Linked DNA regions of Homo sapiens: region 1 is linked to region 2. The links come from fine-mapping of genetic effects on gene expression. A gene starts in region 2. The other region holds a variant in brackets. All regions are shown on one strand. Distances are between the middles of the regions. Region 1 overlaps KNL1 (kinetochore scaffold 1). Region 2 holds the start of KNL1 (kinetochore scaffold 1).

The links.
Region 1: its variant is fine-mapped to the expression of KNL1 in whole blood (TOPMed, PIP above 0.99).

What each region holds. Positions count from the first base shown.
Region 1 is chr15:40,646,832-40,654,831 of GRCh38, reverse strand. KNL1 (kinetochore scaffold 1) reads right to left here. Exons shown (of 26, transcript NM_144508.5): 17 at 7,758-7,845; 18 at 4,454-4,531; 19 at 4,249-4,288; 20 at 3,260-3,361; 21 at 2,727-2,827. Among named protein-coding and RNA genes, the nearest start is that of RAD51-AS1, 44 kb to the left of the region's middle. The variant T/C (reference allele first, on the strand shown) is at 4,706.
Region 2 is chr15:40,585,684-40,602,395 of GRCh38, reverse strand. It overlaps KNL1 (kinetochore scaffold 1), which reads right to left and starts at 8,147. Exons shown (of 26, transcript NM_144508.5): 1 at 8,004-8,147. TRS-GCT4-2 (tRNA-Ser (anticodon GCT) 4-2) reads left to right here and starts at 8,490; the gene lies at 8,490-8,571. RefSeq lists enhancers at 7,668-7,987, 8,208-8,427, 12,175-12,224 and a silencer at 8,548-8,597.

The sequences.
Region 1 (8,000 bases), 57 kb before region 2:
AATGGCGCAGTCTTGGCCCACTGCAAGCTCAGCCTCCCAGGTTCAAGCGATTCTCCTGCCTCAGCCTCCTGAGTAGCTGGGACTACAGGCGCCCGCCACCACACCTGGCTAATTTTTTGTACTTTTAGTAGACACGGGGTTTCACCATGTTAGCCAGGATGGTCTCGATCTCCTGACCTCGTGATCCGCCTACCTCAGCTTCCCAAAGTGCTGGGATTACAGGCATGAGCCACCGTGCCTGGCCTTTTTTTTTTTTTTAAACTACCTGATTTGAAGTCACATAAAACTCAGTACTTTAGAATCCTACTCCTTCTGTGTAGCAGAGTTTTTTCCACAGGAAGTTGAAGGGTTATCCTTGAATCATTATTCTCTGTATCTAGTAAAGGCTCCCCTGAGACTGTTCAACTACATTGATTGGTATGTCTTTGAAGGACATTTAAAAGGTAGTACACAGCTATATTTGTTAAGGCCTCCTCTTTTAACCCCTAACTTCTGTGCAAAGATAATTTTATTTTCAGCAATCATATAAGGAAAATGGCTATCATCTCTCTACAACTCCTATCATTGTATAAATACAGTAAAAATGAGTTATGCTTTTAGCATTGCTATAATACATTTTAGGTAGCTGAGATAGCTGCTCGCTCCCCCAGACTCTAGAGTTAACTGTCTCCTGAATTGATTATTTTCTCTTTATTGAATGCTTTGTTACATATTTTCTATGTGTTAGGCACTGTGGATACCATGAGAAAAACAGCATACTCAACCTGTGCCCTCAAGCTTACAACTCAGGGAGACACACAACTGCACTAATAAACACAGCAAGAACTACAAACTATGATAAGCACTATTAAGGAAAACCACAGAAAGCAAGAACATACAACAGAAGGGTGAGAAACTGATCACTGAGAGCTGAGCTCTTACAATTATTAGTAGGAGTTCATTAGTGAAGTGGGGGAAAACAGCGTTCGGGCATAAGAAACATCAGCATGAAGGTGTTGAGATAGGATGAATATGGCTGAGCAGGAAACACCATGATCATTTAAGGAAATAAAAGAAGTCCACTGTGGCCAACGTGCAGAGGTAGGAAGGTAGTATGAGATAGGAAAAGGAGAAAAATTCAATTCAGGCAACGCTTCATAGGCTAGATCAAATACTTTGATCATTAGCCTAAGAGTAATAGGTGCATAGTCAGATTTTCAGTAATCACTATAGCTTCAGGGAGGAGGAGGAGAAGATCCATAAAGTCCAGTTGGAATGTTACTGTAGTCATCTAGGTTAGAGATGATTATTGACAGAACAGATGAAAAACAGTGGATGAATATTAAGAAATTAAAACCAGTAGGTTGGGCGCTGTGGTTCATGCCTGTAATCCAGCACTTTGGGAGGCCAAGGTGGGCAAATCGCTTGAGGCCAGGAGTTGAGACCAGCCTGGACAACACATATGGTGAAACCCCATCCCCACAAAATATAAAAAAATTAGCCGGGTGTGGTGGCGCATGCCTGTAATCCCAGCTACTTGGAAGGCTGAGGCAGGAGAATCACTTGAACCCAGGAGGCAGAGGTTGCAGTGAGCAGAGATTGCACTACTGCACTTCAGCCTGGGTGGAAGAGTGAGACTGTCTCAAAAAAATAAATAAATAAAAATAAATAAATAAAAACAAAAAGCATGTCTTACTGATGATTTGAATATGTACAGCGAGGGAGAAAGAGGTATAGAGTGATTCCTAAGTTTTAATTTTGGACCTGGACAGAAGGTAACGCTATTCATTGAGAAAAGAAACTTTCAAGGAGAATCAGGTTTAGAGGCCCAGAGATTGTGAAGATCCTACGTTCCAATACGGCCATGTTTGCCCATGGTTGGCCATGTTGACGCTGACTGGTTAAAGAGAAAATACCTAAAAGACACTGACAACTAGTAAACTCCAACAAAACAGCTGGGCCTCTGTCCAGTTACCATATAGTGATTTCCACCCTATATAGTGATTTTATCCTTTTAGATGATAAACCCACCTATACACACAGAACTTCCAATTAACTTGTTAGGGCCTCATTCTTTTTTTTTTTTTTTTTTGAGACAGTTTTGCTCTGTTGCCCAGGCTGGAGTGCAGTGGCACGATCTTGGCTCACTGCAACCTCCACCTCCTGGGTTCGAATGATTCTCCTGTCTCAGCCTCCCGAGTAACTAGGATTACAGGTGCATGCCCAGCTCATTTTTTGTAGTTTTAGTAGAGATGGGGTCTCACCATGTGGGCCAGGCCGGTTTCGAACTCCTGACCTCAGATGATCCGCCCACCTCAGCCTCCCAAAGTGTTGGGAGTACAGGCGTGAGCTGCAGGGCCTCACTCTTAAGTAAAAAAAGAAAAAAAAAAAAAAAAAGAATCTCCAGCCATTAGGGTAAATTCTCTATTCTCTATCACGAAAGATGGAGATGAAAAGAAAGAAACTCATAGTAAATAGACATGAGTAGCATGTTTATCCATTATTTGCAGAGCAAAATTTTTATTTAATGTAATTCAACAAAGGGCAACGTTCACTAATTCCATTTTTATTTTATTCTTTACAAAATAAAATAAAATTCTGCTATCAATAAAGTGACTGTTCTAAGACTTTCAGCAGTGCTCTCATCATGCCAATAGTTATCAGTATAGTAAAATAAAGATTTGAATCTTTAGTGAGTGTAGCCATTCATTTTTCTGTAAAAGAATTATCTCACTTTGGCTCCTTACCAACTGACTCTTCAAAGGTGATGGTGAGTTGTATCGTGTCATAAACAAAGGTGAATACAGCTTGATCATCACTCCACTCAACGACATCCCACTCAGACAAGCTGTAGAGAGATAAACAAGATTTTTAAAAAGCGTTTTTAAAATTAACATAAAAGAGAACTTCTGATACCACCCAAACAGTACCAACAGCAGCTGCTAATGTTTTTCCACTGGACTGGGAGAAAATATTTCAATTCATATATTGTGGATGTACAAACTTAAGCTTTTGAAATAACTAAGAACCCAATCTTGAGTTGTATATCAGAGAAACACCAAGTCTACGCAATGAAAAGTATAAAATATGGAAAAATTATAATTCCATAGTTCTTCTACTCTATTTCCAGCTTACTGTTGAGTACACTGACTCTTTTTGAAACAGCACTGTATAGGTTAAAAACAGCAACACATTAAAAATACATCAATTGCTCCAATCGGTTTAAACAACCACAAGGTACAGAATAAAACACAAACAAATGATGCCTGCATTTCCTTACCTCAACTGATCCAGTAGCTCTTCAGTTCTATTTCTTTGTTTTTGCATAAAGTCTATTTGAGCAAGGGTCTGCTCTTTTTGTACCTCCAGTTCTAAGAGATTTCTGCAAATAAAAGCAGGTATTCAGAGAGATAAGGTTTTTGTTAGAGAATTCACTCTATCAATATAAAAGGTTTATGATAAGAAGTCACATGCTACATGACTCCCCATTGAGGTAATAATGTTAGGTGTATGGCATCCATTTCTGCATTCTTAGTTTAGTTTTTTTTTTTTTTTTTATATAAGCATTAATCTAGAAGTGGGTCTACCTGGGAAAGGCATAAATCATTGTTTTTCAAATTAGGATCCATGAAGATATCCTTGGGATTCACATGTTAAGATAACTTTTAAATACTACATTTTTATTTTTGATAAAAAGCAAAAATATAAAAATATAAGCATAATGTAGATCATAAGATATACTTTAAAACTGAGACATGTCACAGTTTTTTTTTTTTTGCCTGTATTTGGTTTCGTTTAGTTGTTAGAGCTAAACAGAACATATCTTTGTTAATCATTTTGCTAGCATCAATTTAATTTCAGCCAAACACTATCACCTGTCAAATTAATGTTGTCAACTAGAATTTTAGTGGCTTTGTCATTATTTCTATTTACTTTCTTTTACACTTACAGTTGAATAAGATTCATAGGCCTAAGAAATATATACTTCATTTTATACTTGTTTATATTTACATTTATTAAACAAAAAGGATACTGGTAGTATTCAAGCTTGAGAAACACTGTTGTGGATAAATGCCCTGTAAACAATAAGTGCTTCAAAACTACTGTTGACTAAGATGGACTCTAGGTTTCCATTCAAAGTGGAGAAGCCCTGAGTCAGCCTCAATCAAGACTCATGTCCCCAAATCCTGTCAGTCTCTGGAGGCAGGAAGTCATCTAGCCTTCTGTGATTTAGCATTATATTTTCTAACACTTGGATTGAAGGCTGACCTTTGAAGCTCCTCTTCTTCAGTTTTCAGCTGTTCCAATTCTTTGGAAACAGAAAAAAAAAAAAAACAGAACAAACATATTAGAATGTTGCCACAAAAATCTGTTTTATTGAAAATTCTGACTTAATCTCACCAAAGTATATAAACAAACTCAGAACAGAAGGGCTTCCCCCACACCCATTTATCTCCTTAACTAATTCAATTACCTTTTTCTGCAGCTCTCATTTCAGAATCCCATTCTTCCACAGGATTGTTTTTCTCTTCATCCTCCAAATTCTTAGTTTCTAAAGTAGACAGTATTTGTTAGAATAATTCAGTGAAAAATAGTAAAAAAAGAAAACAAAGTAAGGAAAAAAAGAATAATTCAATCAAAAACAATTTATTAAACGACAGATTGTTTCTTTGGTAGTAGGAAGTTCAGAAGTTCTAGTCTGATGGTTTCTATTTTTTTTTTTTTT[T/C]CTGTGAAAGAGAAAGTAAGGTAGTCAACAAAGGGGTGAACTTTAGACTATGGAATTCATGTACTCATGGTCAATTCAGTGCAAAAAACATGTACTAGGCACTTACTCTGTATGAAATATAGTCCTAGGGACTCTGAAGGAGATGGAGAAAAAGAAGAGCTGATTCCTGCCTCCACAGAGCTTATAATTTAATCAGGAAGATAAACTATACAAAATAACTATAATACAAGTAGATGTGATGGGTAATATAAGAAGTACTAACAAAAGAGCCATGAGAGCTCAAGGAAAAGAGACTACTTTCTTTGGTGAAAAACAGAAAGAGAACGTAGTATGTAGTAGCAAAGACCAAAGTAGAAATGATCAGGCTAGTGGCATGTGCCTATAGTCCCAACTACTCAGGAGGCTGAGGAAGGAGGATTCCTTGAGCCCAGGAGTTTGAAGCTGCAGTGAGCTATGATCATGCCACTGCACCCCAGCCTGGGCAACAGAGTGAGACTCTGCCTCTCTTTTTTTTTTTTTAAATAAAAGAAAAAGGCAGGCGTAGTGGCTGATGCCTGTAATCCTAGCACTTTGGGAGGCTGAGATGGGCAGATCACTTGAGGCCAGGAGTTGAGACCAGCCTGGCCAAGATGGTGAAACACCATCTCTACTAAAAATACAAAAATTAGCTGGGGGTGGTGGTGCATGCCTGTAATCCCAGCTACTTGGGAGGCTGAGGCACAAGAATTGCTTGAATCCAGGAGGCAGAGGTTGCAGTGAGCAGAGATCATGCCACTGCACTCCAGCCTGGGTGACAGAGAGAGATTCTGTCTCAAAAAAGTGGCAGAACTGCATAAAAATAGCAATGTTTGGTTAGAATTTAAGAGGTGTATGGGAGTAGTAACAAATCATGTAAATCTGAAAACAACTGTAGAAGATATGAAATGTCAAGCTCAGAAGTTTGGACTTTTTTTTTTTCTTTAAGCCAACCACAGAGAAAGTTAAGTTTGGGCCAGGCGCAGTGGCTCACACCCGTAATCCCAGCACTTTGGGAGGCCGAGGCGGGCGGATCACCTGAGGTCGGGAGTTCGAGATCAGCCTGACCAACATGGAGAAACCCCGTCTCTACTAAAAATACAAAAAAAAAAAAATTAGCAGGGCCTGGTGGTGCATGCCTGTAATCCCAGCTACTCGGGAAGCTCAGGCAGGAAAATCGCTTGAATCTGGGAGGCGGAGGTTGCAGTGAGCAGAGATTGTGCCATTGACTCCAGCCTGGGTAACGACAGTGAAATACCATCTCAAAAAAAAAAAAAAAAAAGAAAGTTAAGTTTGGACTTTATAATAAATGGAAAGACAGAAGTTTTTCAGAGGAGTAACATTAATGAAAACTGTCTTTCATAATTATTAATCTGGCAGCAATGTGCAGGTTGGAATGGAAGAAGGTGGAATAATGGTAAGAATGTATAAAGATTAGTTAGAAGACTGAAATAGCACAGTTCAGAATTAAGGTGAGCCTTAATAGGAAAGGAAAATAAACACATGAGATGCTGAAGCTGCCGATGACAGGACTTGTTAAGAGAGCCTCAAAGACAATGAAAGTATTGAGCTTTTACAATGTATAAGAATTGTGACTGCTATACATAAAGATGAGAAACATCATAAGAGAGAACAAGTTTTTGAATTTTATTTTTGAGCTCGGAGAATATATTTAAATTTATTTATTTAGTTTGCTCTGTTGCACAGGCTGGAGTGCAGTGGTGTGATCTTGCCTCACTGTAGTCTTGACCTCCTGGGCTCAAGAGATCTTCCTGCCTCAGCCTCCCAAGTAGCTAGGACTACAGGTATGTGCCATCACGCTGAGCTAATCTCTTGTTTTTTGTAGAGATAGTGCCTCACTCTGTTGCCCAGGCTGTATTCACAGTTTAAGGTGTTTAAGGATATTTTTTGCATACAGGTTCAGAAGGAAGCTAGAAATTGAGTCTAGAATTCAAGAAAGAGAGGCTAAAGATGCCCTCACCTGAAATGATTATAAGCTACCTTTAGGGCAAAATCTGTGTCTTAAATATTTTTATTTATTTTCTGATACTAAGCACAGTATCTGGCATGCAGTATATGCTCAAAAAATGCTTGAGGAATTTAAATTTGGGAATCAGTCACATAATTATTAAGGCACACGAAAGCACTAGGGGAGAGAATATAGAAAAGAACAGATGATAAAATCTAAATCCCCACAAGGGATCAGTTAGAGAAAGAGAGGCCAACAGAGAAGCTGGATTGAGCAGCCAGGAGAAAACAACTGGGTCAAGATAGTGCATTATCACAGAGATTAAGGGAGATGAACATTTCAGGAAGAAAAGAACAGTCATCAGTGTCAAATGCTGAAAGAGGTCAAAATGGCTAAGGACTGAGAAGAACAAAATTTGATGACTATGCAGAATTATGTGATCTTTGAGAAAGGAGTTTCAGGAGAGTAACTCTAAAAAGTTGGGATTATGAAAGACCAAACTGAAAGGATAGACGGTTTTCAAACTGAGATAAATTCATCTATTAAAAAACACAAAATTACAGTCTGGGTTATCTTGAGCAGCTCTTGATTGTATTATGGATGACTATAGTAAAGGAACTTTAATTTGCTCTAATTTATTTATTTATTTATTTTATTATTATTTTTTTTGAGATGGAGTCTCGCTCTGCCACCCAGGCTGGAGTGCAGTGGCGCAATCTTGGCTCACTGCAACCTGCACATCCTGGGTTCAAACTATTCTCCTGCCTCAGCCTCCCGAGTAGCTGGAGTACAGGCGCCCGTCACCACGCCCAGCTAATTTTAAAATTTTTAGTAGAGATGGGGTTTCACCATGTTGGCCAGGCTGGTCTCAAACTCCTGACCTCAGGTGATCCGCCCGGCTTGGCCTCCCAAAGTGCTGGGATTACAGGCGTGAGCCAATTTACTCTAATTTAATATCTCAAGTTGCTAATACAAGTCTTCAATATCGTGGTACCAACATTCTCTACTGTAGGAGAGCATTTAGATAAAATTAAATTTTCTTTTGGAAAAGTATTTAAAATACTTTACCTGTTTCCATCTCAGTGAGGCAGTTATCGATCTTCTTAAGTATTTTATCCATCTCATCTATCTTTATTTGAAGTTTCTCCCTCTCATTCTAAATACAAAAGATTATAGACTGTCAAGTTAAACCTCTAAAGAAAATATTATAAATGGTTCAAACTGCTCACATAATCGCTCTATCATGATCACAAACAGGCAAATCTTTTTTTTTTTTTTTTTTTTTTGAGGCGGAGTCTCATTCTGTTACCC
Region 2 (16,712 bases):
GGGAGGCCGAGGCGGGTGGATCACAAGGTCAGGAGATCGAGACCATCCTGGCTAACACGGTGAAACCCCGTCTCTACTGAAAAAAAAAAAAATACAGCACTTTGGGAGGCCGAGGCGGGCAGATCACGGGGTCAGGAGATCGAGACCATCTTGGCTAACACGGTGAAACCCCGTCTCTACTAAAAATAGAAAAAAAAAAAAATTAGCTGGGCGCGGTGGCGGGCGCCTGTAATCCCAGCTAATCAGGAGGCTGAGGCAGAATGGCGTGAACCCGGGAGGCGGAGCTTGCAGTGAGCCGAGATAGCGCCACCACAGTCCGGCCTGGGCGAAAGAGCAAGACTCCGTCTCAAAAAAAAAACAAAAACAAAACAAAAAAACCCACAAAAATTAGCCAGGCGTGGCGGCGTGCACCTGTAGTCCCAGCTACTAGGGAGGCTGAGGCGGAGCTTGCAGTGAGCCGAAATTGCACCACTGCACTCCAGCCTGGGCGACAGAGCGAGAATCTGTCTCAAAAAAAAAAAAAAAAAAAAAAAAAAGATGCATTTTTAAGGAATTTTTTTTTTTTTTTGAGACGGAGTCTGGCTCTGTCGCCCAGGCTGGAGAGCAGCGGCGCCATCTCGGCTCACTGCAAGCTCCGCCTCCCGGGTTCACGCCATTCTCCATTCTCCTGCCTCAGCCTCCCGAGTAGCTGGGACTACAGGCGCCCACGACCGCGCCCGGCTAATTTTTTTTGTATTTTTAGTAGAGACGGGGTTTCACCGTGGTCTCGATCTCCTGACCTCATGATCCACCCGCCTCGGCCTCCCAAAGTGCTGGGATTACAGGCGTGAGCCACCCCGCCTGGCCCATTTTAATAAATTTAAACCACTATTATAATTAATATTCCTGGAAAATTATCACACTCAAGATAAAAATCAGTGACTAACTTTGATCAGGATGCTAGGGACTTTACTGGTTCAAATAAAAATTTGGCCTAGCTTATAAGAGTTTGCAGATTATTTAATAATCCACTCCCAAAGTGGACATCAATTAGATAAGTGGTCCCCAACCTTTTCCAAACCAGGGATCAGTTTTAGGGAAGACTATTTTTCCACAGACCAGGAGGGTGTGATGGGGGATGGTTTCGGGATGAAACTGTTCCACCTCTGATCATCAGGCATTAGACTCTCGTAAGGAGCCCGCAACCTAGATCCCTCGTGTGCGCAGTTCACAACAGGGTTTGTGCTCCCGTGAGAATCAAATGCCACTGCTGATCCGACAGAAGGCGGAGCTCAGGCCGCTAATGCTGGGCTGCTACTGATCTCCCACTGTGCCATCCAGGCAGTGGACCTATACCGTTCCACGGCCCAGGGGGTTGGGGACACCTGAATTAGATATCTAAATATAGTGAATTTGCATCATATGTATATTTATCTGAGGGAAAGTCAACGATAAGTACTCAGCAAAAAAATTTAACACATGAAAATAGCACCTTATTAGCATAGCTGATAATGCTTTAAATTTCACTCAGTGAGTATTTGCCCTGGAAAGAATATGAACTTAGAGGCATAACGTGAAGTTTCCTGAACTGGTCTCAGTTCCTGCCTCCCTATATTTGATTTTCACTTTATGTATTAACTTTAGAATCTCATCCTTGGATAAGAAAAAAATGCCACTGCAGATTTCAAAAAAGAATAGCTAGAGATTTTGACTCAACCATATTAGCATTTCCACCACAACACTAAATTAATACAATACACATAAACAGGATCAATGTTCTTGCTTTTAGCAATAAGTAAACAGGTACCTGAAAGATATTTGATGTGCTTCGATCCACCTGCCTCTGCCTTCCAAAGTGCTGGGATTATAAGCATGAGCCACTGTGCCCAGCTATTTTTCTAGTTTTAGCCATTAAACTGTCTGTCTTCCCACCATGGGAGATCAAAATTTAACTTCCTTTCCTGCAACCACCTCTGAGACACACATACACACACACCAAGGAAAGATTACATGCCATTCTCAAAAGTATAAAAATCCCAAATAGCCGGGCGTGGTGGCCCATGCCTGTAATCCCAACACTTTGGGAGGCCAAGGTGGATGGATCACCTCAGGTCAGGAGTTTGAGACCAGCCTGGCCAACATGGTGAAACCCCGTCTCTACTAAAAATATAAAAACTAGTCGACATGGTGGTGGGTGCCTGTAATCCCAGCTACTAAGGAGGCTGAGGCAGGAGAATTGCTTGAACCCAGGGGACAGAGGTTACAGTGAGCCAACACGGGGCCACTGCACTCCAACCTGGGCAACAAAGTGAGATTCCATTGCAAAAAAAAAAAAAAAAAAGGAATCCCAAATAAATATCAGCAAAAAGAATCCAGCAATTTGTAAGAAGGATAATATATCACGGTCATGTTGGTTTTATTGCAGAAATGCAAAATTGGGTGGGCAGATATGGGGCAATGTGCCTGCAGTCCCAGCTACTTGGGAGGCTGAGGCAGGAGGATCTCTGGAACCCTGGAGTTCCAGGCTGCAGTGTACTATGATTGCAACCGTGAATAGCTACTGTACTCCAGCCTGGGCAACATAGGGAGACCCCGTCTCTTTAAAAAAAAAAAAAAAAAAAAAGGAATACATAATCGGTTTAATATCAGAAAATCAACCTTGCAATTTACCTTACTAACAGATTAAAAGGTAAAAATCATATAATCATCTCAACAGATGAAGAAAAAAGTTAAGGGCTGGGGGCAGTGGCTCACACCTGTAATCCTAGCACTTTGGGCAGCCGAGGCAGGCTGATCACTTGAGCTCAGGAGTCCAAAGGGGCCTGGACAACACGGCAAAACCCCACCTCTACGAAAAATACAAAACTTAGCCGGGTATGGTGGCTCGCACATGTAGTCCCAGCTACTCTGGAGGCTGAGGTGGGAGGATCGCTTGACCCTGGGAGGCAGAGGCTGCAGTGAGCAGAGATCAAACCACTGCACTCCAGCCTGGGCAACAGAGAAAGACCCTGTCTCGGGGGGTGGGGGAGGATGCTTAATGAATTTTAACATCCTTTCCTGTTTAAAAAAACAAAACAAAACAAAACTTTTTTTTTTTTTTTTTTGAGGCAGAATCTTGCTCTGTGACCCAGGCTGGAGTGCAGTGACGCAATTTTGGCTCACTGCAACCTCTGCCTCCCGGGTTCATGCCTCCCAAGTAGCCTCCCTAGTAGCTGGGACTATAGGCACCCGCCACCATGCTCAGCTAATTTTTTGAAAAATACTCTTTTTTTAAAGCTATAGTTGTTTAAAAAAAATTTTTTTTTTCAAATGGGCCAGGCATGGTGGCTCATGCCTGTAATCCCAGCACTCTGGGAAGTCAAGGTGGGAGGACTGCTTGACTCCAGGAGTTTGACAGCAGCCTGGGCAACATAGTGAGATCTTGTCTCTACTAAAAATAAAAATAATTAACCAGGTATGGTAGCACATGCCTGTAGTCCCAGCTACTTGGGAGGGTGAGGCAGGAGGATAGCTTGAGCCTGGAAGGTAGGTGGTGCAGTGAGCCGTGATCACGCCACTAGACTCCAGCCTGGGCAACAGAGCTAGACCCTGTCTCGAAAACAAATTTAAAAAAATTTCTTTTTAATACAGCAAACGAGAAATAGAAGGTAAGTTAACAGTATATATTCAAAAAACTAATAGGAAAGATCAACTTAATAGTTAAACTTTGAAAACTTTCCAAGATCCAAAAAGTATGACAGCCATTTACTTCTATTCAATCCAACATCTAATTCGATTTCCAATATATATCCCCAATATCCCCAACCCACTCATTTTTTTGTTTTTTTTGGGGGGCCGGAGGGGGCAGGGAGACAGGGTCTTGCTCTGTTGTCCAGGCTGGAGTGCAGTGGTGTGATCTAGGCTTACTGCAGTCTCAAACTCTTAGGCTCAAGTAATCCTCAAGCCTCTTGAGGAGCTGGGGTTACAGGCACCTGCCACCATTCCTGGCTAATTTTTTTATTTTTATTTTTTGTAGAGCTGGAGTCTACTAGGCTGCCCAGGCTTGTCATGAGCTCCTGGCCTCAAGCAATCCTTCCAGCTCTGCTCCCAAAGTGTTGGGATTACCGGTATAAGCCAGCAGGCCCAGCCTCAATAAACATTTGCTGAATGAGTAATTAAGAAACAATTATTTGACCACCAACTCGCATATTTTTTCTCCTTTGGAAATATTTTCTTTTTTTTTCTTTTTCTTTTTTTTTTTTTGAGACGGAGTTTCCCTCTTGTTGCCCAGGCTAGAGAGCAATGGTGCCATCTCAGCTCACCACAACATCCCCATCCTGGGTTCAAGTGATTCTCCTTCCTGCCTCACCCGCCAGAGTAGCTGGGATTCCAGGCGCCTGCCACCACGCCCAGCTAATTTTTGTACTTTTAGTAGAGACGGGTTTTCACCATGTTGGTCAGGCTGGTCTCGAACTCTTCACCTAGTGATCTGCCCGCCTCGGCCTCCCAAAGTGCTGGGATGACAGGCGTGAGCCACCGCGCCCAGGGGAAATATTTTCAAATTCAGTGCACATGTTCAAAATTCACAGATAATAACTACTATCAACTCAAGATCACCTAAATATCTTTGTTGTTTAAAACAGTCATTAAGCATAATTCCTGTCCAATCTGTAGACCAATCAGTTAGCAATTAACTGATAAAATTCAAACTTACTGAAGTCCCCCTTTTAAAATATTCTGTAACTGTTAAGTTCCACTTTCAACACAAATAGGAGACTCCAGACTCACAAGTTAAGCCTCATTTATAAAACACTGGTACGGCCAAACTCTTGATTATTGACACATTAAGTTACTGGTTCCCGGGGCCTGGTGCGATGGCTCAAGCCTGTAATCTCAGCACTTTGGGAGGCCGAGGTGGGTGGATCACTTGAGGCCAGGAGTTCAAGACCAGCCTGGACAACATGGTGAAACCTCTGTCTCTACTAAAATTACAAAAAAATTAGCAGGGCAAAAAAATTAGCTAGGCATGGAAGCGTGTTCCTGTAATCCCAGGTACTTGGGAGGCTGAAGCAGGAGAATCCCCTGAACCCAGGAGGTAGAGATTGCAGTGAACTGAGATGGCACCACTGCATTCTGGCCTGGGCAACACAGTGAGTGAGACTCTGTCTCGAAAAGAAAAAAAAACAAAAAAGTTACTGATTCCAAACTGTGTACCTGGCACCCAAGGGTGCTGCAGCATACTCACAATGGTGTCCTGGGATATTTAAAAATTTTGAGAGATGCACAGCAGTTCTGAACACCTGTCAGGTACTGTGTGAACTACTAGATCAAAACAGTACATTTGCATTACATTAGTTTTAATAACATCACTGTAAAGATAAACTGTTTGCAGTTGCTGTGATAAAAAGCAAGTACCTTTTTTTTTTTTTTTTTTTTTGAGATGGAGTTTCACTCTTGTTGCCCAGGCTGGAGTACAATGGCGCAATCTTGGCTCACTGCAACCTCTGCCTCCCAGGTTCAAGTGATTCTCCTGCCTCAGCCTCCCAAGTAGCTGGGATTACAGGCATGCGCCACCACGCTTGGCTAATTTTGTATTTTTAGTAGAGACGCAGTTTCTGCATGTTGGTCAGGCTGGTCTCAAACTCCTGATCTCAGGTGATCTGCCTGCCTCGGCCTCCCAAAGTGCTGGGATTACAGGTGTGAGCCACCGTGCCCGGCCCAAAAGCAAGTATTTTTTATTAAAGTACTACAGGAAATGAGGGTGACAGGGTATAAACTGATTCCAAAGTTTCAGAAGTTGTGCAGTGTCCAACAGGCACAGATATCCAATCAGTAAGTGTGATTATTTAATAATAAAATTTTGGCCAGGCACAGTGGCTCACACCTGTAATCCCAGGACTTTGGGAGGCCAAGGCAGGCGGATCCCGAGGTCAAGAGTTCGAGACCAGCCTGGCCAACGTGGTGAAACCCCGTGTCTACTTAAAAATATAAAAATTGGCTGCGCATGGTGGCGGGTGCCTATAATCCCAGTTACTGCGGAAGCTGAGGCAGGAGAATCATTTGAACCCAGGAGGCGGAGGCTGCAGTGAGCCAAGATAGCACCACTGCACTCCAGCCTGGGTGACAGAGCGAGACTCCGTCTCACAAAAAAGAATAAATAAATAAATAAAATTTAAAATATCATATTTTCCTTCAATTTCTGTATTTTTTTAAATGGCTACTAAGTTTGGGACATATATACTTAATGTTTGGACCCAACCACTGTACTCAATAAATAGACTGTTAGGTATTTCTTTGATCTCAGGGTGCCATGCATCAAGAAAATTTGGGAACCACTACTCTAAATAATCCGTAGGTCCTCAAACAGCGACTGAGCCCAATTAGCCTTTGAGCTAAGAGTGTTTTTTTACCCTTTTAATGGATTGTAGAAAACAAGGCAAGCAATAACAACTAAACAAAGAATATGTGACAAAGACCATGTAGCCTGCAAAGCCTGAAATATTTACTATCTGGCTCTTTGCCCACTCCTACATTTATACGACCGATATCTAGAGTTAGTATTTTCCGGGATTGTAGGAGGATAAGAGTGAAATGACAGAGACTCTAGACCTGTGCTGTCCAATATAGTAGTTATTTACATTTAAATTAATGAAAATAAAATAAAATTTAATAATCAGTTCTTTGGTCACAATAATGACATTTCAAGTGCTCCATAGTCCCATGTCGCTAATGGGTAGTATGTTGGAGTGCACATATAAAACATTACCATTTTCACAGGAAGCCCTGTTGGACAGCACTGCTTTACTGGCAATATCTAGAGTCAGTATCTTTTACAGTCTATTATTTAACATCGAACACATCATTAATACTACCATTCCAAACATTTTAATTCAATTTACATGTATTTATCATCTTGTAAAGATTTCCAGCCATTCGCAAAGTCAAGAATTATACTGCTTTGACCCTAACCTTTAATTACCAAAATTTTACCACATATTAACTCCCATCTGTAAATCATCTCTCCAACCAACGTCCACCTCAAATGCGGTCTTCTCCACAAATCCATCACCAAAAGCATCAAATAAGCTCTCCCTTTTCCGTGCTCCCACACCACTTTAGAATGTCCTATAATCTTTTACATTCTGTCTTGTATTCTAGTTATTTGTGTATATTAGTTATTTCCCTTTGTAAACCCCTCTAGGTTTGGGAATCATCTGTCCCCGGCCCTATCACAGGATAAGGAACCCAATAAATATCTACAGGATTCGACGGAAGTGAAAACATCAATTTTAATATCTAGACTGGAATAAGCTTCTGCTTTGGTCTTCATCCACATCCTTTATCTGTTAATGCCTATTAAACCTATCTGTAAAATTCCAATCGGCAATACTTTTTCCTCCCTCAAACTTGAGTATTTAAATAAACGTGAAGAATAAGGGCTTAAATCCTGAGGAATAATGAACAGAAGAGGATTTTTAAAAACTAATTTGCGCAGTACTAATATTGACTTCATTTGTTAAGGTTATTATACTTGCAGAAAACGAAAAATCTGTTACGTGCGGCCAGCACTCCGAGCAGACACCTTAAACCACGAAGAGCTGAGAATTTTAAAATCACTCATTGCTGTCACTTCATTTAGAGCCAAAAAAAGCTTAAGTGAGAAATACAAACAGCCGAGAGGTCCCTAGGGAAGAGCGGCAGGGGTGCAAGAAGAGTCCGCGAGCCCTGACAGAGGACGGCAGGGCGGGGCGGAAGAGGACGCCAAGAGAGCGACGGACAAGCAACCCGAGCCGGGTGGCCGGAGGGGCCGAGGTGCAGGCGGAGAAGTGTTAGGGAAGCGGGAGGCGGCACAACGTACAGGCCGAGGAGGGGAAAAAGGGCACAGTGTGCCCGGCCCGGGGCAGGGGCGTCTACTCGGCCCGGCGCTAACGGAGGCCGCCAGGCTGAGGGAGCGTACCCTACCTCCCACCGCAGGAACTTCAGGGCGCCCAGACAAAACCCGAAGCCTTCCCTGAAGCCCAGAACGAAAGAGTCATTCTCTTTACCTGCCGCGGCAAACCTCCTCGACAAATTTTGCGCAGACTTGTTTGGGGTCCACACGCTCTGAGTTTCCTTAGAGCGGAAACAGACAGCCGCCTCTAGCAGTCCGCTCACAACGCCCGGCTCGCCTCAGTGAAGTATTCAAATCTAACCGCCTAGGTGATGCGCACGCGCAAAGCGGCTCTACGCGTCGGCTCCGCCCCTTAGGTTCCAGACCAACCCTATTTCTAAGACTCCTTTAGGGAAACTACTTTCCCAGACTCCGTGCCAATTTTATTTCCTTCAGCTTTATCTCTTTTTCGACCGAATTTCCTCTGCCCCTCCCCAGTGGAGACCTCCCCCACAATCGTGGGAGCGGCCATCTTCTTTCGATTGCTTGCTATGGAAGTGATTGGACTTTGGCTTCCGTACAAAATGGCGGCTTCCATAACATTGCGTCACAGCCCCTTGATATTACTCCCTATAGCAATCAGGAAACAGTAACTTACCGGGACGAGGTGGCCGAGTGGTTAAGGCGATGGACTGCTAATCCATTGTGCTCTGCACGCGTGGGTTCGAATCCCATCCTCGTCGATGTGGTGGCTTACTTTTGCTTGTAACCAAAGTAAATTTGCAGAGCAGAATAAATTTTTTAATAACCAAAGTAAATTTGCAGAGCAGAATAAATTTTTTAATAACCAAAGTAAATTTGCAGAGCGGAAAAACTTGAATACTTATTATTTATTACTCAATTAATCTGGCACCATCAGTTTCAGGCCTGAAATGTTGAAATACAGTATTTGGAACGTTCTGACATCACAGATAAAGAAAAGGGAGGGAAAGAGACTTTCCAGGAATCAGAAATCATGCTGGATTTAATTTCTTTTTATATGGAGTTAACAACAGTGAATAGAATTCCACAATTATTACCATCCCATATGTTCCAATGCTGCTCTGTTCCAACTTTAACACAGCTCCTAACTGAGGAGTTTCAATTATTGTAGACTGTTACTCTGGGGTTTTTAACACCTGTCCTGATTATGAGATACCAGGTTTCACTTCAAAAGCTACCATGAGACACTTTATCCGGTATTTATTATCTACAGGCACCACATGTTTTACATGAATTACATCACTATAACCCTTGATCATGACAAATATTTTTATTACTCCATTTTACAGATGAGGAGACTGAAAGATTAGCTTGCCCGAGGTTATACAGCTTCTAAATTGAAGAAAGGAGAGTGTAACCCAAATCTACTAGACGCTGGCTTAATCACCCTTCTAATCTGTGCTGTAGATTAATAATTAGTATTTATCAATCCTACACTGTGCTGTAGATTAATAATCAGTATTTATCAATCTTTTGCAGTCATGGTTTACAGATTGTCTCCTCCACAAGGCTGTCTGCATTGCACCATGCTCCACAACACGGCCTCTGGCAGGTGCTTCAGCAAGGTTTGGGCACTGAGTATGGAAAGCAGTGGCCCCATTCTCTGCTGGCTCCAGTGGCTTCTTTCTGTTACAGATCCAAATCCGTTGGGAATGTTGATACCTCCTTGGGCTCAGGACATTGAGTCACCCTTCCTTAGCCTTGCTCTCCAATGCATTCTCTACCCTGCTGCTAGGAAGGGTTTCTGCTGGGTTCCACGCATTTCCAAGGGGTCCATGGATAGAATTCAGTGGGTTATTTGGTTCAGAAAAAGATTTCATCCTTATTTCCACACTCCCTAATTGAAAGCACATCCTTCAATAACGGTAAGCAACTAACTACAGTAATATTAACCTTATCCATTATTTTGTCACCAATAGAAATCACAGATATTTTTATATCAGATTACTGTTATTGCTTTACGCTCATTGCTACTTCAAAATTGTGGTAATTTTTAGACCTGCTATTATGTCTTGTAATGTTATGCATTCATAAAGAAGTGCATGCATTAAGCTGGGCGCGGTGGCTCACACCTGTAATCCCAGCTCTTTGGAAGGCTGAGGTGGGTGGATCATTTGAGGTCAGGAGTTCAAGACCAGCCTGGCCAACATGGTGAAACCCCATCTGTACTAAAAATACAAAAATTACCCGGGCGTGGTGGCACGTGCCTGTAGTCCCAGCTACCGGGGAGGCCGAGGCAGGAGAACTGCTTGAACCCGGGAGGTGAAGGTTGCAGTGAGCCAAAATCATGCCACTGCATTCCAGCCTGGGCGACAGAGCAAGACTCCATTTCAAAAAAAAAAAAAAAAGTGCATGCATTATTATATTATTACATCACAAACTTTGAGAATATTTTGGCAACTATTCCAACAAAATTGGTTGCCTTTGTATTCTAACATATTTAATTTTATACATTTAAAAACAACATTCTGGCCAGGCATGGTGGCTCATGCCTGAAATCTCAGGAGCAGCCCTTGAGTCCGGGAGTTCAAAGACAGTCTGGGCAACATAGTGAGGCCCCTGTCTCTACAAAAAAATTTAAAAATTTAATCAAAATTTAAAAAAAATTCTGAGATGAGATCCTTAGACTTCCCCAGACTGCCAAAAGGGTCTGTGTCACAAAAAAAAGGTTAAGAGCCCCTGAGAGAGACCTTTCTAAATCTCCCTGGAGACACAGATCTACCTTTCCTTGAACTAGGATTTTTTCTCTTTCCACAACACGTTTGTAGATACCGTCCCTGCTCCTCTCCCTGCAACATACCCCTGACCCCACCCTCTTCTTTCCCATCATGTCACTGCCTGGGCGGCTCCTGCTTCTCCTTCGGATCTGAGCTTAGAGGTCACCCCCATCAACAAGCCCTGCAACCTGCAGCTCCCTCTTCCATTTCAACTAGCCCGTGCGCTCTCTCTTGCTTCTGGACCTTTGTAACCCTCCTAGACGCTTCTGTGGCCTGCTAGGCTTTTCCCAGCACTTGCCAGGGAAGTGCTGGGAATGCATTTGTAAATACATTTTTATTTACATTGCCCATTAGTGCTGCAACTTCTCTAGAGACGCCAGGGCTGCATCATTTTCCTGAGGTTTGCCAGCTTCTTGCAGTGATAACTATAGGTCTATCAACGTCTGTGCAGAGCATGGGTAGACTTTTTTTTTTTTTTTTTTGAGACAGGGTCTCGCTCTGTCGCCCAGGCTGGAGTGCAGTGGCACTATCTCCGCTCACCGCAACCTTCACCTCCCAGGTTCAAGCAGTTCTCCTGCCTCAGCCTTCCAAGTAGCTGGGATTACAGGTGTGTGCCACCACGCCCTGTTAATTTTTGTATTTTTAAGAGAGACTGGGTTTCACTGAAGAAGGAATTCATGAATTTTACAAGTATAATCAAAGACAACCGAAAATTTTTACTTTTTCCTTCAAAAGCTAAGTGTAGTGTAGCCACCTCCCCCCCGCCCCGCCCCCAGCCAAGTTAGAGAAGACCCCCGGCCAAGTTAGAGAAGAATACTAACTGCCTGCTTTTCCTTCTGTGCTCGGCGAGCCTTATCTGTACTTGCTAGTTTCACATTCCTTGAGGCTCAGCGAGTTCCTGCTTCCCCTCCCTAGGGCAGCTGCAAAGTTATAAGGTTGGTACAGAAACATGGTTTCCCAGGGATGTGGAACGTGTAGTATAGATAAATGTAAAAGACTGATCAACTGTCTTTGTTCTCGCTTCTGTAAGTACCCTTCCTGCATCACGTTGCTCCCGGCCACTGACTGCGTAAAACGTGGCTACTTTCTTTGTCTGGGGCTCAGACTTTCCTGGAGGCTAGTCCTACTGGGCCAAGTGACCACCTTTTAATAAAGACCTTTCCTGAACTCACTCTGTTCGGTCTCTCCCATCTTTTGATTGTCCCGCAACATCACCATGTTGGCCATGCTGGATGGGACGGCGTGCTGCATGGGCTGGGAAGATTATTTTTTCAAAGGAAAATCTTCAGCTGTATAAGTTATGAAAATGAAATGTACTGGCAGAATATAGAGGAAAAAAAAGAAAAAAATTGTGAGTTGAAAACTCACTTTTTTAGGCTGAGTACAGTGGCTCACACCTGTAATTCCAGCACTCTGGAAGGCTGAGGTGGGAGGATTGCTTGAGTCCCGGAGTTCGAGACCAGCCCAAGCAACATAGGGAGAATCTGTCTCAAGAAAGAAGGAAAGAGAGAGAAAAAGAAAGACAGAAAGAAAGAGAAAGAAAAAGAAAATAAGAAAGAAAGAAAGACAAGAAAGAAAAAAGAAAGAAAGAAAGAAAGAGGCTGGTGTGGTCGCTAGCGCCCGTAGTCCTGCGAGGCTGAGGTGGGAGGATCGCTTGAGCCCCGGAGGTTGAGGCTGCGGTGAGGCGTGATCGGTCCACTGCACTCCAGCCTGGGCGACACAGCGAGACTCCGTCTCAAAAAAAAAAAAAAAAAAAAAAAAGTCAAGGGAAAGAAAAAGAAATACTTCAATTAGAAACGGAAAGAGAAGCTTGTAAGAAGCTGACAGGAAAAGAGTTAGAGGCGCCATCTACTGGAGCAGCTGCAACTGCAAGACTCGGACAAGATGCTCTTATCTACAGGGATGGATGCTCTCGTCTACCGAGATGGATGCTCTCGTCTACAGAGATCTCCATTAACTCCCCAAATTCTTCAACAAACCACAGCTCAAAGAAACCGTTCTCTACCAACACCAACGTTCTTCCTTGCAAGTACTATCCTCAACTATTGCAGGACACCTCAACCTCTGGAAGACCACAGCAAAGGACTGTTGCATAAATATCTTACCAAGATATTCCAGCTCTTTTACTATTGGAGTGTTAGGCAATGCGTCTTCATTATCTGGGGCCAGCTTTAAGAGGACCAATTCCCTCTTTTGAAAATGAGGTTCTCTGGGAATCAATGGCCAATGTTTATTATGAAATAATAAACTGGTCCACAGCCCAGACAGGCTGTGTGTGTCAGCAGCAGCCCTTATATGACATAGCTCTGAAGGAAGAATTGAAATCAATGCTTTGTTTTTGTTTGTTCGGTTTGGCTTTTTTTTTTTTTTTTGACACATCTAAAGTTTATTTCTTAACTCTTGCAAGAAAAACCCAGACCTCAGGCTCCAAGACTTGCAAAGACTGGTTTTGAGAGGCAGGCAATGACAGAAGTGAAGTCAATTTGTTCCTTACCATTAGGTTCTCCCACTGGAGAACCATCTCTGGGAACACAGTGATGACAGGGTCTGGAGAGGTTCCATAGTGAATCCATGCATTCTGCTCTGAGTCTACAACACCGACCCAAAACGTTTTTCTTTTCTAAAATCATTCCCTGAGATGTACTCTATCGTGTGAAAATACTACAACAACTTCTAGGAATGTCTAGTGAACTGAAAACTAAATAACATTTTCATATTGAAGATCAGTAGAGCAAAACGGAAATCCAGTTTTAGTAACATTGTCTAGGAAAGCCAAGATGAATGAGTAAATGCCAAAGACTCAGGGAAATAGGGAATAACACTTTATGGTATATCCCAAGCTGAGGTAGTGATGGATAGTTAGCCAGTTGTTTATCTGATCGTTTTCTTTTTTCCTTTTTTTTTTTTTGTGAGACAGAGTCTCACTCTGTCACTCAGGCTGGAGTGCAGTAGCGCGACCTTGGCTCACTGCAACCTCCGCCACCCAGGTTCAAGCGATTCTCTCATCTCAGCTTCCTGAGTAGCTGGGATTACAGGTGCGCGCCACACCACACCCAGCTAATTTTTATATTTTTAGTAGAGATGGAGTTTCATCATGTTGGCTAGGCTAGTCTCAAACTCCTGACCTCAGGTGATCTGCCCCGCTCAGCCTCCCAAAGTGCTGGAATTACAGGTGTGAGCCACCGTGCCTGGTCTAGAATTCTGATTTTTAAATTATTGAATAACACAGAAACTTGACATCTGAAAAAATGTTTTGTTTTTGTTTTGATTTTTTAGCTTTAAAAAACTGAAATAGTTCCTTAATGTCAGTTTCTGGGAACTCACTGAAAGGATCACTTCCAATCAACTCTCCTTTCAATGACTGTCAGTAGTCATTTTTTATATAACCTAGGAGGTATCAGAGGTGGCCTTTATTTCAGCCCAAGATGCAAGGCTTTAAAATTCTTTTTTGAGGCCAGGTGCCATGGCTTATGCCTGTAATCCCAGCATGTTGACAGGCCAAGGCAGAAGTTCTGCTTGAGGCCAAGAGGTCGAGACCAGCCTGGGTAATACAGTGAGACCCTGTCTCTACAAAAAATGAAATTAAAATTAAAAAAATTAGCCAGGCGGCTGGGCACGGTGGTTCACGCCTGTAATCCCAGCACTTTGGGAGGCCAAGGCAGGCAGATCACCTGAGGTCAGGAGTTCGAGACCAGCCTGGCCAATGTGGCAAAAAAACCCATCTCTACTAAAAATACAAAAATTAGCCAGGCATGGTGGCATGCACCTGTAACTCCAGCTACCCAGGAGGCTGAGGCAGGAGTATCACTTAAACCCAGGAGATGGAGGTTGCAGTGAGCCGAGATTGTGCCACTGTACTCCAGCCTGGGAAACAGAGTGAGACTCTACCTCAAAAAAAAAAAAAAAAAAAATTAGCCAGGCATGGGTGTGCACACTTGTGGGCCCAGCTACTCGGGAGGCTGAGGCAGGAGGATCATTTGAACCCAGGAGTTCCAGGTTGCAGTGAGCCTTGATCATGCTACCGTACTCCAGCCTGGGTGACAGGCTGTCTCAGAAAAACCCAAAAAATTTTGCTTAAACAACAAAAATTTATTGTCTCCCAGTTCTGGAGGCTAAAGTCTGAGATCAAGGTGTCAACAGGGTTGGTTCCTTAGGAGGGGTGTGAGGGAGAATCTATTTCATATCTCTCATCTAGCTTCTGTAGTTTACTGGCAGTTTCTGGCATATCTTGGCTTATAAAATGACTAATCCTTGCAATTTTGCTTCAGTTGTGATTCTGGAAGATTTGGCATTTAGATCAGATATAAAGCTTTCCTTTTAAAATTCCTAACCTACTTTAACTTCAACATTTGGAATGTTGGAAAGAAAAAAGAACCAGAATAATTGCATCACTTATTATTTACTTGAATTACTAAAACATTTTCAAGAACCTTTTGTCTAGATGTCTTGGTAATGAAGAGATAGAAGATGCAAGTTCTTGGGCTCTTTGTGTCGGAGAGCATGCGGGGTCTAGAATTCCAAAGCCATGAACTGCTTTTAGATCCCTCAGTTCTTTTATGATGGAGAAGTTGTATTTGAATCTGCTAAGGCAAATTAAAGCAGTTAGTCATTTTTGCAAATTATTATTATTATTATTTTTGAAACGGAGTCTTGCTCTGTCGCCCAGGCTGGAGTGCACTGGCGCTATCTCAGCTCACTGCAAGCTCCACCTCCTGGGTTCATGCCATTCTCCTGCCTCAGCCTCCCTAGTAGGTGGACTACAGGCGCCCGCCACCATGCCTGGCTAATTTTTTTTTTGTATTTTTAGTAGAGACAGGCTTTTACCGTGTTAGCCAGGATGGTCTCGATCTCCTGACCTCATGATCCGCCCACCTCAGCCTCCCAAAGTGCTGGGATTATAGGTGTGAGCCACCAAGCGCCTGGCCCATTTTTGCAAATTATTAATTATTGCTTACCATTATAGTCTCCAAAATACTAGGTGTATGGTGTTATCTTTCCACCACTGGTGAAAACAACCCATGGTCTAGGCACTTTGGAGTAGCACCCACCAGCTGTGTGAAGGTCAAATGGATCTTAAAGAGTTGTGCAGTGGGACTGAAAGAGGAGAGTCACTATTTCAGAGATAACCAAATGTTAAAAAAAAGAGGTGAGATATTTTAATATTTGTTGTTTAAAAGTTTTATCTTGATAGTATTACACAATTATACAATACATACATACGTAATGTAATATGCATGTACAGTTTAAAAATAACAATAATAAGGCCAGGTGCAGTGGCTCACACATGTAATCCCAGCACTTTGGGAGGCCAAGGTTGGGGACGATCGCTTGAGGCCAGTAGTTCGAGACCAGCCTAGGTAACACAGTGAGACTCTGTCTCTACAAAATATTAAAAATTAGCCAGGTGTGGTGGTATGCACCCATATTCTCAGCTACTCAAGAGGCTCAAATGGGTGAATCACTTGAGCCCAAGAGTTCCAGACAGGCCTGGGAAACATGGCAAAACCCTGTCTCTACCAAAAATGCAAAAATTAGCTGGGTGTGCTGGTGTGTGCTGCGGTCCCAGCTACTCAGGAGGCTGAAGTGGGAGGATCACTTGAACCTGGGAGGTCGAGAGTACAGTGAGCCATGATCGTGCCACTGCAATCCAGCCTGGGCAACAGAGCAGGACCTTGTCTCCGAAAAAAAAAAGAAAGAAAGAAAGAAAGAAAAAAACAGCAATGCTGTATATACACCACCCAGCTTGAGAAATAGAACATTACCAGCCCCTTTGTTTCTTTTTTAAAAAATGATTTTTAATTATTTTAATTTTTTTTTCCTACCCTCTTGGCAGGTGGCAGATTACTAGCACCTTTGATGCTTCCTGTGTGTCCCTTCCTGGAGGCATCCTCCCACCAAAAAGATAACTACTTTGGCCGGGCACAGTGGCTCACGCCTGTAATCTCAGCACTTTGTGAGGATGAGGCAGGCAGACCACGAGGTCAGGAGTTTGAGACCAGCCTCACCAATATGGTGAAACCCTGTCTCTACTAAAAAAAAAAAAAATACAAAAAATTAGCCAGGCGTGGTGGCGGGCGCCTATAATCCCAGCTACTCGGGAGGCTGAGGCAGGAGAATCGCTTGAA